Homo sapiens: one gene and its partners. The protein of the gene in region 1 interacts with the protein of each later gene in a pairwise test. Each region holds a gene or a part of one and is shown on either strand. Other genes may lie near its edges.

Region 1 (3,500 bases):
TAATATAAGTAAAATTAGATATTTTATGTCTGAATTTAAACCTTCTCATTGTTCCAGTAAAAAGAGCAAAATGTCTTTGTGTGGCATATAGCTCTGTTAACTAATAATTAGTGCTGTCTTTGGTAAAATGTTTTAAAATTTAGATAATTTATTTTTCTTCACATTTTTCTTAGTATGGTTCTTCTGTGTCACACAATAGGAAGGAAGTACAGAAATGAATTGTTTTTGTAAACCTCACTTCTTACCAACTATTTGTAGTGTGAATTTCAAGAGAATTGTTGTTTTTCTCGATTAAAGGGGAGAAATGGAAGTAAGTGTGAGGCAACTTAATCTTTAATAACAGAGCTGGAAGTTAGGAATGGATAGCTACAGTAAATGACTTCTTTTTTTAAGTAAAATGCCACACATGAGCATGAATGTTTCAGAAATGCAACACATGAAAAAATAGAAATAACAATGGAGTTAAATAATTAAGGTGACGTATGATAGGCACAGATAAAGGGAATGAGTTAATGTAATGACTAGGGAGGAGCCAGACAATGAATCATAATTAGGAACATCTAGGTTATGCATAGTATCTTTCTCAAATACAATTTAAGGGACTCAGAATTTCATTTTGTTCCAACTTTCTCTCATATGGGTTCTCTGAAAATGATTTTGTTTGTAGGCACATGACCCAAATATTGCATGGGATAAAATTGTTTTTCTGAAATTCATATTTATCTGGGCCTCCTCTGTTTTTATTTTTAAAACAGAGGTGATTTGGTCTTGCCATTTGTTTTTAACTTTAATACCTGTATAATCTAGGACAGCTTTTAAAATTTATTTATTTTACCCTGGCACGTGCAAGAGTTTTTTCAAGACTTACCTTTTTTCCCCCTTGGTAACAGAATCCCTATTGCCAGAATCTTTTACAGTTTTTACCTTGTAGTGCATAAATCAGTTGAATACTCATCTGAAAATTTCCTTTCTTTGATTCTTAAGGCCCAGTTGAAAGTCAGCCTGATGTATTGGAGTAATAAAGTCAGCCTGATATATTGGCATAGCCTTTGGCTGATGAGAGACCTAGTTTGAGGAAAAAAATAATAGATCTTATTTTCTTTTTCTCCAAATTGAGTAGAGGTGATATTTGGAAAAATATATATTGTTAGCTCCATTGGCTCCTTTAGGTCTCAGGCAAAGTCTGTCACCGAGGACCTTTATGAGAGACATGCAGTCTAGTCAGCTATTCTCAACTGTGGTGTTGACACACTGGTGTGACAATCATTTGTGTGATGTGTTGCAAGAGTTAAAATATTTGTGTTGTAAATTATTTACTTTTTAAATAAATGAAAGCATTTGAAGGTTATCTCTATATTGTCATTTTTTCTTGCTTGCATTTGAATAAGGTTCTTTTTTAAGTGGGAGATAAACACAAGTTCAAGTTACAAGTAGCCAGAATTGCTTTGCCTAATTTACTCACGTCCCAGTCCATATTTGTACCTGAATTTTTAGATTACTTCTCTCAATATGTGCATTGTTGCTTCCACTTCATGTTTTAAGACAATTATTCTTAATCAGGAGTGTGTTAGAATTTCTTGGAAGGCTTTTTCAGCAACGTGTATCTGGGCTTTAAAAACTATGAAGATTTCTTTATCTTCTAAACATCTCAAGTGGGGTAAGGACATGTATGTTTTGAAAAAACTACCTAGGTGATTCTGATGTACATCCCCAGTATGAACTCTGTTCTAGGGATTTCTTTGGATCTAAATACTCATTTGGCTATACCAGGATGCATTATCTTCTTAAATTAAGTTGCATTTATTTTAGATTGCAGATTATGTGCTGTATCAGTTATTACCTCCAGTTGCTTTTATGCTTGTTTTTTAAATTTGGCACTGCCATATTAGCATACCATTCATAATTCATTTTTATTATAACTTCATATAATTTTCAACTTTAGTTTTATCATGTGTAAGATGGGATAATAATTTCTATTATTTTTCAAATGGAGATTAAAGTTAAGAGGATCAAATGAGAAATGTATATAAAGGGGTCTTAAAATAATGTTATAATTACAATAATTAGCTTTTTTTTCTGTATACTTGATGCTGGTTGCTAATTCTAGCAATAAAGTGTTTGTTAATAATGTGTCTATTTCCGATAATTTATGATCCATTTAAACATTTCAATGTAATTTTTTTATTTTAAAAGCTCATGCTTTATTAGATAGGCACTATGTTTTAAAATAGCACTCTTTCTTGCCTAAGCGCAAATAAAAACATAGATATATCTTACAAACATTTTGGCTGTATTTTAGAAGTTATTCTGATGTATATTAGCCTTTTAAAATACTATTCAGAATATAGGGGTCAGTCCCAGCTTTGCATAGTGTTGCTTAAAGAAAAATACAGTAATCAATTTGTTTAGAGTCAATTTTGGAGACGTTTTGGTGCTTTTCAAAACTGTGGCGATTTGAGGTTATCTTAGTTAAGAGTACTTATTTTCCCTACAATTTCCTGATTTATGTTTTACCCTCTTGCACTCCATAGATGACTACATTTCAACACATTTTATATTCAGGAAGAATGGCATTGTGCAAAGCACAGTACTGAGGAAGGAGATAACTGGTGCATTGTACTGATGCATTATATAAATGATTTATAGCTGGGAAGTTTTTTAAAAATCATAAACACAGATAAATCAAAATAGGAATGAGTATGAGGAAATACTGAGGTGTAGCAATCCTGGTACCTATAAAGCACTATTTTTTTTTCCTTAGTAGTGGAATCTAATTAAAAAATCTGACTAATCACTTATATGATTATTTAACGTTTGAATAACTTGTATAAACAAAAGACCTTAAGATTTTTTAGTCATTCATTCAATAGATGTTTAATGAATATCTCTGTACAAGGCACTGATGAGTTAAACACAATTTCTGCCTTCAAGTAGCTTGAAGAAATAAAACAAGTAGCTTTATCTCAAGAAGAAATAAGACGGTAAGTTTTCCCTAAATTACAGTTATTTGGAATAATTGCTATACACAGAATACTATGGTAGTTTAAAGGAGGGGAGATTATTTCCAGCTGGGGGAATGTAGAGTATTACAGTATACTGTGTTACTTGGTTGTAATACTCTACATTCCCCCAGCTTGTTAATTTTTACCAATTAAGAGCTTCTGCAGTAGGAAAAATAAATTCCAAGGACTTTAAATACTCAATATTATATGATAACTGATATTTATGTAATTTTTACTATTTAAAAATATTTAATCTTTTCAACAACTACTTTTCTGTTCTTTTTGTAAACAATCTAAAGAAGTGTCATGTAACCAATGAAGTTTTGGGTTTTTTTGTTGTTGTTTTTGTGTTTTGTTTGTTTTTTTTTTTGAGACGGAGTCTCACTCTGTCACCCAGGCTAGAGTGCAGTGGTACAATCTTGGCTCACTGCAGCCTCCACCTCCTGGGTTCAAGCAATTCTCTTGCCTCAGTCTCCCAAGTAGCTGGGATTACAGGTG
Region 2 (3,500 bases), on another chromosome or scaffold:
GCCTTTATTTTGAGCCTATTTGTGTTATTGCATGTGAGATGGGTCTCTTGAAGACAGCATACCAATGGGTCTTGGTTCTTTATCTAGCTTGCCATTCTGTTTTTTTTTTTTTTTTGTTTTGTTTTTTGAGACAGAGTCTTGCTCTGTCTCCCAGGCAGGCTGGAGTGCAGTAGCACAATCTCGGCTCACTGCAACCTCTGCCTCCTAGGTTCAAGTGATTCTCCTGCCTCAGCCTCCCAAGTAGCTGGAATTATAGGCACCCAACACCATGCCTGGCTAATTTTTCTATTTTTTAGTAGAGATGGGTTTTCATCATGTTGGCCAGGCTGGTCTTGAACTCCTGGCCTCAAGTGATTCACCTGCTTCAGCCTCTCAAAGTGCTGGGATTACAGACATGAGCCACCATGCCTGGTCTGTTTGATGACCTTGAGGTTTTGATTGTGGTATAAGGTGGATTCAGCCAACTGGCTTCATTTATGGAATATTTAAGGGGCCAGTGCCCAGCTGCCAACTCCTGGACTCTGCATGCTCTAGCTCTGGGGGACTTGTTTTGGGCCCTGACTTTGTTCTCTGGCTCCTTGAGGTTTGGAATCCACTGCACTGGGGGGCTGAGGTACTGCAGCTACAGCAGAGTGGCTGGCAGATGCAGAGTGCCTGCCTTCCTGTGGGGGTTCACCACAGTGGTGGAGGCAAAGCAGCTGGGGTGGGGATGGGGGGCTCCTGTTGGAGACTGTGTGCAGTTACTCTGGAGGTACTATAGGCATGGGTGGGGTGCTGGTTGGCACAGGTCTAGGTGCCTTTTCTGTGCCCTGCAAGCAGGAGTGATCGCTCAGGGTGGGGGAGGATCCACTGTTCTCTGCTCAGTGTTAGGTCAAAGGCAGGGTTCTGGCGGGTATGGGGCTTGCTGGCTCTGTGTCTGCCAAGGCTTCACCTGCAATGGAAGTCTGTAGGGAAAGGGGAGGCCCACTGGACTCCTGCATGCTGGTGGGGGAAGGAAATCAAAACCCACCTGTGCAGACATCAGCAGAGTGATGTGGGGAGTTGCCTGGGCCCAGGGGAAGCTACAATATGAGGAGGGAGCAGGCAGGCTGGTGTGTGGCCGTCGGGGCTGTCTCACTGGAGCTCTCCACTGGCCAGGCACAGTCTGCTGGCACAGAAGCTATGGTGAAGACCCCCAGGGCACCCAAGACTGCCCTGCAAGCAGGCATGGCCAGGCTGGGGCCCCAGGAGAGGCCAGCAGACGAAGGGGTGCTCAGGTTGGACTGGTCCCATCTGATGGGTAAGACCACCCTGCAGAGAACAGGTCTGACAGTTCCCCTAGGTCCAAAGTCTCCTGTGGGAGCAAATCAAGCCTGGGGGACGGCCGTCCCTGGCTGTGTTCCTGCACCAGACCCTCTGGGTTCTGCTTCAGCTGGCTGCTGCCCCCATCACTTCTCTAAGCAGCTCTCCCTGCCAACTAGAGTGTCCATGGTGGGCAAGGGGTCTCCCCCAGCTGGGGTTCCAGAGGCCCATGGCAACAGTGGGTTGCTCCTTGCCCGTTTAACTCCCCCATTTCCCCAGAGCTGTTGTGGGTCCAAAAATGAGCACCAGTGCTCAGTAGTCCCAGGCAGGTTCCCAGCTTTCTCCCCTTCAGCCCAGCTTCTGTGTGCTCCCTCCATCTGCCCTCAGCACCTTCCCTCTGAAGATGTGTTAGAAGCTCACCAGTCATCTCAGGCCCTCCGTGGGAGCTGTATCATCTGGCTGCATCTGGCCGGCCATCCCGCCCTTCCAATCCACATGAACTTCTTATTTCTGTCTTTGTCCTTATTACTCAGAACTCGGGCCTTGGCCTTGACTTTCATGGGGCCTCCTCCAGGGAAGGTGAGAGAGGGTTTTGGCCGCATCCTGGTCCTCCTGACCAGCTGTGGGAAGGACCAACGGTCCCATCTGCCCAGAGGAGGGAGGTTTGCACAGGCTGGATGCTGTGGAAGAGTCCTTCCTGTTCTTATTTTTGGAAAACAGAAAATTTGAGAAATGGCTCATCTTGTTCGGTGTTTGTGAGCCTATCTCTGTACCAGTGGAGGTATCTCAGCTTCTTGCCAGGGACCGTATCTGGTATCTTGCTACGCTGCACAGCCACTGGGTTCTGCACACCCTGCCTCTTGCTCTCCACCCCACCGCCTCGTGCTCTGCACACACCCCTGCCTCATGCTCTCCACCCCCATCTTGTGCTCTGCACACCTCCCCGCTTTGTGCTCTGCACAACCCCCGCCTCACGCTCTGTGCATCCTCCGCCTCACGCTCTGTGCATCCCCCGCCTCACGCTCTTTGCATCCCCCACCTCACACTCTGTGCATCCCCCGCCTCATGCTCTGCACTCCTGCCTCATGCTCTGTGCATCCCCCGCCTCATGCTCTGCACTCCTGCCTCATGCTCTGTGCACACTCCTGCCTCGTGCTGTGTGTTCTTGATCATGTTTGGATGAGACTTTGTGCAATTATTTTTGGCCTGGCCATGGTTTTTTTTTTTTTTTTTTTTTTTCTGGGGGTTATCTTTGTAGGAATTTGACATCAGAGTTGTGACAAATTTTGAAACCTAATTGAGCATCTTTTAACCTGTTCTACGGTTCCAGCCTCATTTGTATGATGTCGGGATTATGACTTGTTTGGGAACTTGGCACACTCACCCACAGACCATCCAGGCCTGCAGCCCTCTGGGGAATAATCATTTCATAACTTTTAGATTTTCCTTCTTTGTGTATTGGTTCATTTAGGTTTTCTACTTCTTATTGAGTCACTTGAAAGTAATTTTCCAGGCTATCTCCTTTTATTGAAATTTTAATTAATACATAATTGTACATAATATTCTTTTATAATTTGAAAAGTGTCTGGGGTGGGGGGTCTGTGAAGCCTGAGGACTCCAGGCCTCCCACGTGGCAGGAGGCCGGGCACACGCTGATGACTTTGCTTCTTTCGAACTTTTTTTCCTTGGAAAACATTTCAGAGGGAAGATTAGTTGGTTCCTTTGTAGGCACATTTTTTTTTTTTTTTTTGAGATGGATTCTTGCTCTGTCGCCCAGGCTGGATTGCAGTGGCACGATCTTGGCTCACTGCAAGCTCCAGTAGGCACATTTTAAGGTATAATTTTTTGATATGGCTCCGAACACTTTCTCTAATATGTATTTGCTTTATTGCTAGGAGAATACACATGACATGGAGGTAGAATAGAATTTCATAAGCCATAAAGGCATAGATAAGCTAAATTTGGCCAGGGATTGGGGAAATGCCACATGACCTCATCAGCCTGGTTGGGGAATATTCAGTCCTCATGAGGGTGTGGGGCCAGGAGGTGTTGGTGGGCATGGACCCTCCCCCTTGGTGTGGAAAGCAAAGAAAGTGAACACACCTGAGCCCAGCGTCAGACCACAGAGGATGTTCACAGAGCAGGAGGCTCCTCCCCATCCACAAAGGATGTTCACAGAGCAGGAGGCTCCTCCCCATCCACAGAGGATGTTTACAGAG
Region 3 (2,766 bases), on another chromosome or scaffold:
TTAATATACTCAGTAAATCTCCTGAGCTATAGATATATTCTGCTACACTATATGGCTTGAGGGTAATTATCCCTCACCAAATAGTAACTACTTTCTCTGTCTGCTGCTTTGCTTATATGAAGAGTCCAAAATGACTAGGCGATAAAGATTACTTTTGTTTATGCCAAAGAAATAGAGAAGCAAATACTATACTTTTTATTCACATGAAAACTTTAAAAAACCAAAAATTACCTACAGGATTACAACTGATAGAGTGATTAGCTGTCTTTGGGAATGAGTAAGAGCATATAATTGGGAGAGAATGGAATTAATTTCTATTTCCTAACATAGATGTAATGGGGACACAGATGTATTTACAATATAATACTATATCAAGTTGAAAATTAATAATTTGCATTCTTCTCAAATGAATGGTATACCTAGAAAATGTTTTAAACATGTTAGAACTCCATGATGAATCAGGCATCATCTCAACTCATCTAATTCCTTCATTAAAAAGAAATAGAGAGAGAGAGAGAAGACATGCTGCTTACTGTGCTAGTAACCGGGTTGCGACTAGAGCCACAGCACATGCTGGTTGGCCTGAATCTCAAGCATTTATGCCATAGAGAGTCCTACATTCTCATTCTGGAATCGCCACGCTCACAGACAAGTCAGAATGAATGGTCACTCAGGGCATAGATTACTTGATGCTGTCTAAATCCCAGTGGATTTATCTGCATCCACCTGCTCTCGATCTGCTCTGCCACATGGAACACACTGTGACAAACACCCTCTTCCCAAGTGATGTTCAAAGAACTGAAAGACAGGTGGTGTGGGTTGCACAGAGAGATGCCTGCTAGTCTTGAGTCAGAATTTGGTGGGTGACTAGTCTTGGGCCCAGGCATGGATTCATTTTGTCACTGTAAATATATCAGCATCATGCTTCTCCCCACAGACACTTCCCAGTCTACATACAGCCAAACATGAGGCTGGCCAGAGAGAACTTCCTGAGCCTCCCAGATCAACAGGAACTATCACATGACCAGATGATGGTCAGAACAGGAATGATGCTGATGATGAGATTGCCTTCCTTTTATCTGAAACAAAGTGTCTATGAGTAATTCACAATTAAGAAACAGATTAAACCTTAATCTGTTTAACCTTAAGGAAACAACTACCCTTTGAGAATCACAAACGGACTGGGAAAACAATGTAAACGGAAACAAGGAAAAGTCCTGCTGATTGGTGGAAACTTTGGAGGCCAGGTGTATAAAAGGTCCAGATTGCAAGGGGTCATCAGATTCTGGGAAACTCACCTCTGAACAGAAGCCCACCCTCTACCCCTGACACCATGACCCACTGTTGCTCCCCTTGCTGTCAGCCTACATGCTGCAGGACCACCTGCTGCAGGACCACCTGCTGGAAGCCCACCACTGTGACCACCTGCAGCAGCACACCCTGCTGCCAGCCCTCCTGCTGTGTTTCCAGCTGCTGCCAGCCTTGCTGCCGCCCAACTTGCTGTCAAAACACCTGCTGCCAGCCCACCTGTGTGACCAGCTGCTGCCAGCCTTCCTGCTGCAGCACACCCTGCTGCCAGCCCACCTGCTGTGGGTCCAGCTGTGACCAGAGCAGCTCCTGTGCACCTGTGTACTGCAGAAGAACCTGCTACTACCCCACAACTGTCTGCCTGCCTGGTTGCCTAAACCAGAGCTGTGGCTCCAACTGCTGCCAGCCCTGCTGCCGCCCAGCCTGCTGTGAGACCACTTGCTTCCAGCCCACCTGTGTGTCCAGCTGCTGTCAGCCTTTTTGCTGCTGATCAAGTCCCAAGAGAACCACCATCCTCACACAACAACTTTCTGCTCAACTGACTTATCTTTTGGGGGACTAATTTAATTTGCTGCTGACAGCCACCATGCTCTCACCCAAATTTTTATGAATTCTCTACCTGTTTAAAATCTTGGGAATCTACTTGAGGGAGGGCAGAATACTTCATCCTGATTCTCTTTTTCCTTACACTTTGTGGATCATGTGCCAGCTTCGTGTGTTCTCAATTTTGAGTCATGGTCTCAGCTTTGACTCAAAAGTCAAGAGCTTCATTCTCTGCTTCTAAGGAATTTAGGTTTCTGCAACTGATCAATAATCTTTGCAATCATATTTTTGTTTTCAATATCCTCCTCATGGTTCTTGTATCCTTCTTTCTTCTTTTCATAACTTTGGGTTATGTTTCTGCTACCAGCAGAGATTCTTAGCTATATGTTTCTGAATAAACTCTGAACCATCCTCATCTCATATGGTGTTTTGTTTTATATGAAAGCATTCCTGATATGAGATTTACACACATATCACATACCATAGGTATTATCCAATTTGATTCTCAAAACAGATGGTCGTGTGTTATTACCTCCATTTTTTCAGCTGAGAACAATTTAATGTGTGATGTTATGTAGCTAGTAAAGGGCAGACTCTTGTCCAAGCTGAGGTCCTCTCTTTCTGCCCAAGGACACTTACATTTAACTCTCAATATAGTAGAAATGACATTGGAAGTAAGTATTAGCAAGTCATATACTTGAGTTTTTTTAACAATAGGACAAATAATCTCTTATATTTGCAGATAACGTTTTTGTTTACAAAAAATTCCCAATTTCCCACACCTCAGTGAGAAACAGCTGCGTGATATGGCAGCAGGGACTGCATTTAATGGCTGCCCTGAATGCAGGGAGCTCTTTTTGTCTCAGCCTCTGACCAGCCACTCATTCAATTCATCTACATCAAAAAAAGCTTGGG
Region 4 (3,500 bases), on another chromosome or scaffold:
CAATCCCTTTTCAACCTATGTCTGCTTTGTTTTTATTTTTATTTATTTATTTATGGGTTTTTTTTTTTTTTTTTTTTTGAGACAAGAGTTTTGCTGTTGTTGCCCAGGCTAGAGTGCAGTGATGCAATTTTGGCTCACTGCAACCTCCGCCTCCTGGGTCCAAGCAATTCTCCTGCCTCAGCCTCCCAAGTAGCTAGGCATGTGCTACCACACCTGGCTAATTTTTGTATTTTTTTTTTTTTTTAGCAGAGGCGGGGTTTCACCATGTTGGTCAGGCTGGTCTCGAACTCCTGATCTCAAGTGATCCGCCCACTTCGGCCTCCCAAAGTGCTGGGATTACAGGCATGAGCCACCGTGCCCAGCCTGCTTTGTTTTTAGACCTGGTTTCTCTTATGTGTCTTCTGACACAGTGCAGTTACACTAAAGCGGGTTACCCAAAGAATCTACCTGATGAAGAGAGTGAAGCTTGAAGGTCAGAGCAGACCAAGAGAGGCCAGGAGCAGAGCTCTTGTGAGACAGGGACCACGTGGAGGTTATCAGGGCTCTGGGCAAGGATGCTAATAGACCAGAGATGTCAGATGTCAGAATCCCCACCTTGACCAGTGGTTCTTCACCATTAATCCCTATCAGACCCTGATGACAGCCTTGGATTTCCCTCTCTCCTGGAAAATGCAAAGGCTCACACACCAAAAAAGTATTTTGGAGTAGCTTCAAGTTTCATAAACCCCCAGCTTCACCTCTGTGCTTCGCAGCATAGTAATTAAGGTCACACTCTGGATTAAATGGCCTAGGGTGAAATCCTCCTTTACTAGTTAGCTGTGTAACCTTGAGCAAGTTACTTAACTTGGTCTTGGGCCTCCAGTTCCCTCACTTTTAAATGAGGATAATCATAGCATTTGATTGTAGGATTGTTAGAACTAAATGAGTTAATGTATGTGACATTCCTAGCACGTGGTTAACTCTATAGTAGTGTTCACTATATAATAGTATTGCTGCCCTTGCACCTTAGCCCATTTAGTAAATGTTTATGGACAGAATGAATGAATAATTCTAGTTGAGATGCCATGCCTGGGGTAGAGCATTCCAATCAGCGTGTCGCAGTTGGTCTATAGGTTTTTTTGGGTTTTTCGTTTGTTTGTTTTTGAGACGGAGTCTCACTCTGTCGCCCAGGCTGGAGTGCAGTGGTGCAGTCTTGGCTCACTGCAAGCTCCGCCTCCCAGGTTTATGCCATTCTTCTGCCTTAGCCTCCCGAGTAGCTGGAACTACAGGCGCCCTCCACGCCCGGCTAATTTTTTGTATTTTTAGTAGAGACAGGGTTTCACCCTGTTAGTCAGGATGGTCTGGATCTCCTGACCTTGTGATCTGCCCGCCTCAACTTCTCAAAGTGCTGGGATTACAGGTGTGAGCCACCACGCCCAGCCAGTTTTTGTTTTGTTTTTTTCTTTTTTTTTGAGACGGAGTTTCGCTGTTGTTGCCCAGGCTGGAGTGCAATGACACGATCTCGGCTCACCGCAACCTCTGCCTCCCAGGTTCAAGCAATTCTCCTGCCTCAGCCTCCCAAGTAGCTGGGATTACAGGCATGTGCCACCATGCCCAGCTAATTTTGTATTTTTAGTAGAGACGGGGCTTCTCCATGTTAGTCAGGCTGGTCTCGAACTCCTGGATGGTCTATAATTTTGCCAAGATATTGATCCGCTCGCCCCTCAGGGCTGTCAAAGCCCCAGTTGGTCGCTTCTGGCTTGAAGCAGTGACATCTGCAATGTGAACTTCTGACTTTAAGCAGCAGCATCTGCAATGCAATGTACAAATATCTGTCTCTCTAGGTCCCCTGACATGAAAACAGTTTGGGTAGCACCAGTCAAAGATATCGGTTGGTAAGTCGTGAGAATCCAGTAGGCAGTCCAGATTCCAAGTCCAGGAGAATTTTGAGAATGGATGTCAAAGAGAGTCTTCACGACTGCACTGAGTTTAGAGGCCGTGGGCTTCCTGCAGGCTTCACAAGTGTTGGGGTCCACTGCTAGAGCAGGCTGCACACCACAGTGGGTACAGAAGATATCCTGCCAGCAGGAAGCTTCAGTGCTTCCCACCTTGCACATGAGGGACCCAGGGAGTCACTCACAGGATGTGTGGAGAGCCCACAGTGTGAGTTGCTGGAGAAACCACTGTGACGCAGAAACCAGGCTAGAGCCCAAAGCCTTGTGTAGGCAACGGACATTAAACAGATAGTGATGAGTACTGAAGTAGGTTGAGCCCAGAGGTGTGAGTGCTAGGAAAAGGTGGTACCTAGGCTGTGGGAGTTTATAACAACCCAGCCTTGTATGCAAGGTGGACTCTAAGAGCTGTAGGAAACTATGGAAGGGTTTTAGTCAAGGAAGTGGTATGTTTAGATTTGTACTCTTTTTTTCTTATAAATCTACTTTTATTTATTTACTTTTCATTAGCTTAAGTCCTTGAGGGGCACAGCGTCACACAGATTCTGTGTTCAATAGCTTTAGCAAGATTGCTTGGGAATTTAGCACAAACCATGCCACTGTTTCCATGGGCCTGAGTTTACCTTTCCCCAGATTATGCTGGTTTTCTTCAGTTTGCTGCCAGCAGTCAGTGTGTTGTTCTTTGCTTTATACATGTAAGTACATCTCTTGCCTAAATAGAATTAGTTTCATTTCGAGCATAAATACCTTCAATTTTTTTTTTTTTTTTTTTTTTTTTTTGGGACGGAGTCTCGCTCTGTCGCCCAGGCTGGAGTGCAGTGGCGCGATCTTGGCTCATTGCAAGCTCCACCTCCCAGGTTCATGCCATTCTCCTGCCTCAGCCTCCCAAGTAGCTGGGACTACAGGTGCCCACCACCACGCCCGGCTAATTTTTTGTATTTTTAGTAGAGATGGGTTTTCACCATGTTAGCCAGGATGGTCTCAATCTCCTGACCTCGTGATCCACTGTCCTCGGCCTCCCAAAGTGCTGGGATTACAGTCGTGAGCCACCGCACTTGGCCAATACCTCAATTTTAATAAGAGCTGTGTCCTCGCTTTGGTTCTGGAGGCCCCACTTACAGCTAGCAAAAAATGGCCTTGGACTACAGCCTTCCAAATGTATTGTATTTATCTTATTATTATTTTTGAGACAGAGTCTCTTTATCACCCAGGCTGGAATTCAGTGGTATGATCAAAGCTTACTGCAGTTTCAAATTCCTGGGGTCAGGCAGTGCTCCCACCTCAGCCTCTTGTGTAGCTAGGATTGCAGGCATGTGCCACTACACCTGGCTAATTTTTTTTTTTTTGTAGAGACAATGTCTTGCTGTGTTGCCCACATTGGTCTTGAACTCCTAGCCTCAAATAATCCTCCTGCCTCAGCCTCCCAAAGCACTGGGATTACAGGCATGAGCCACTACACCCCGCCCATATTTGCCTTTTGGAAGTCCTGTTCTCAGCAGGCCTCTACAGGCTCCAAGATAGTGGGAAGAGAGCTTTTTTTTTAAATTCACCCTGACAGCATAAACATGA

The links. Proteins that work in one complex are often made in the same cells at the same time.
Region 2: the proteins of REL (region 1) and SPATC1L interact in binary tests that used the Homo sapiens proteins (3 or more experiments, as listed by UniProt).
Region 3: the proteins of REL (region 1) and KRTAP9-4 interact in binary tests that used the Homo sapiens proteins (3 or more experiments, as listed by UniProt).
Region 4: the proteins of REL (region 1) and ZNF76 interact in binary tests that used the Homo sapiens proteins (3 or more experiments, as listed by UniProt).

What each region holds. Positions count from the first base shown.
Region 1 is NC_000002.12:60,884,574-60,888,073, forward strand, and holds part of REL (proto-oncogene c-Rel), read left to right. Parts: intron 1-3,500. UniProt on the Homo sapiens protein: Proto-oncogene that may play a role in differentiation and lymphopoiesis.
Region 2 is NC_000021.9:46,170,960-46,174,459, reverse strand, and holds part of SPATC1L (speriolin-like protein), read left to right. Parts: intron 1-3,500.
Region 3 is NC_000017.11:41,248,388-41,251,153, forward strand, and holds KRTAP9-4 (keratin-associated protein 9-4), read left to right. Parts: upstream 1-1,299; 5' UTR 1,300-1,333; coding exon 1,334-1,798; 3' UTR 1,799-2,266; downstream 2,267-2,766. UniProt on the Homo sapiens protein: In the hair cortex, hair keratin intermediate filaments are embedded in an interfilamentous matrix, consisting of hair keratin-associated proteins (KRTAP), which are essential for the formation of a rigid and resistant hair shaft through their extensive disulfide bond cross-linking with abundant cysteine residues of hair keratins.
Region 4 is NC_000006.12:35,276,735-35,280,234, forward strand, and holds part of ZNF76 (zinc finger protein 76), read left to right. Parts: intron 1-3,500. UniProt on the Homo sapiens protein: May be involved in transcriptional regulation.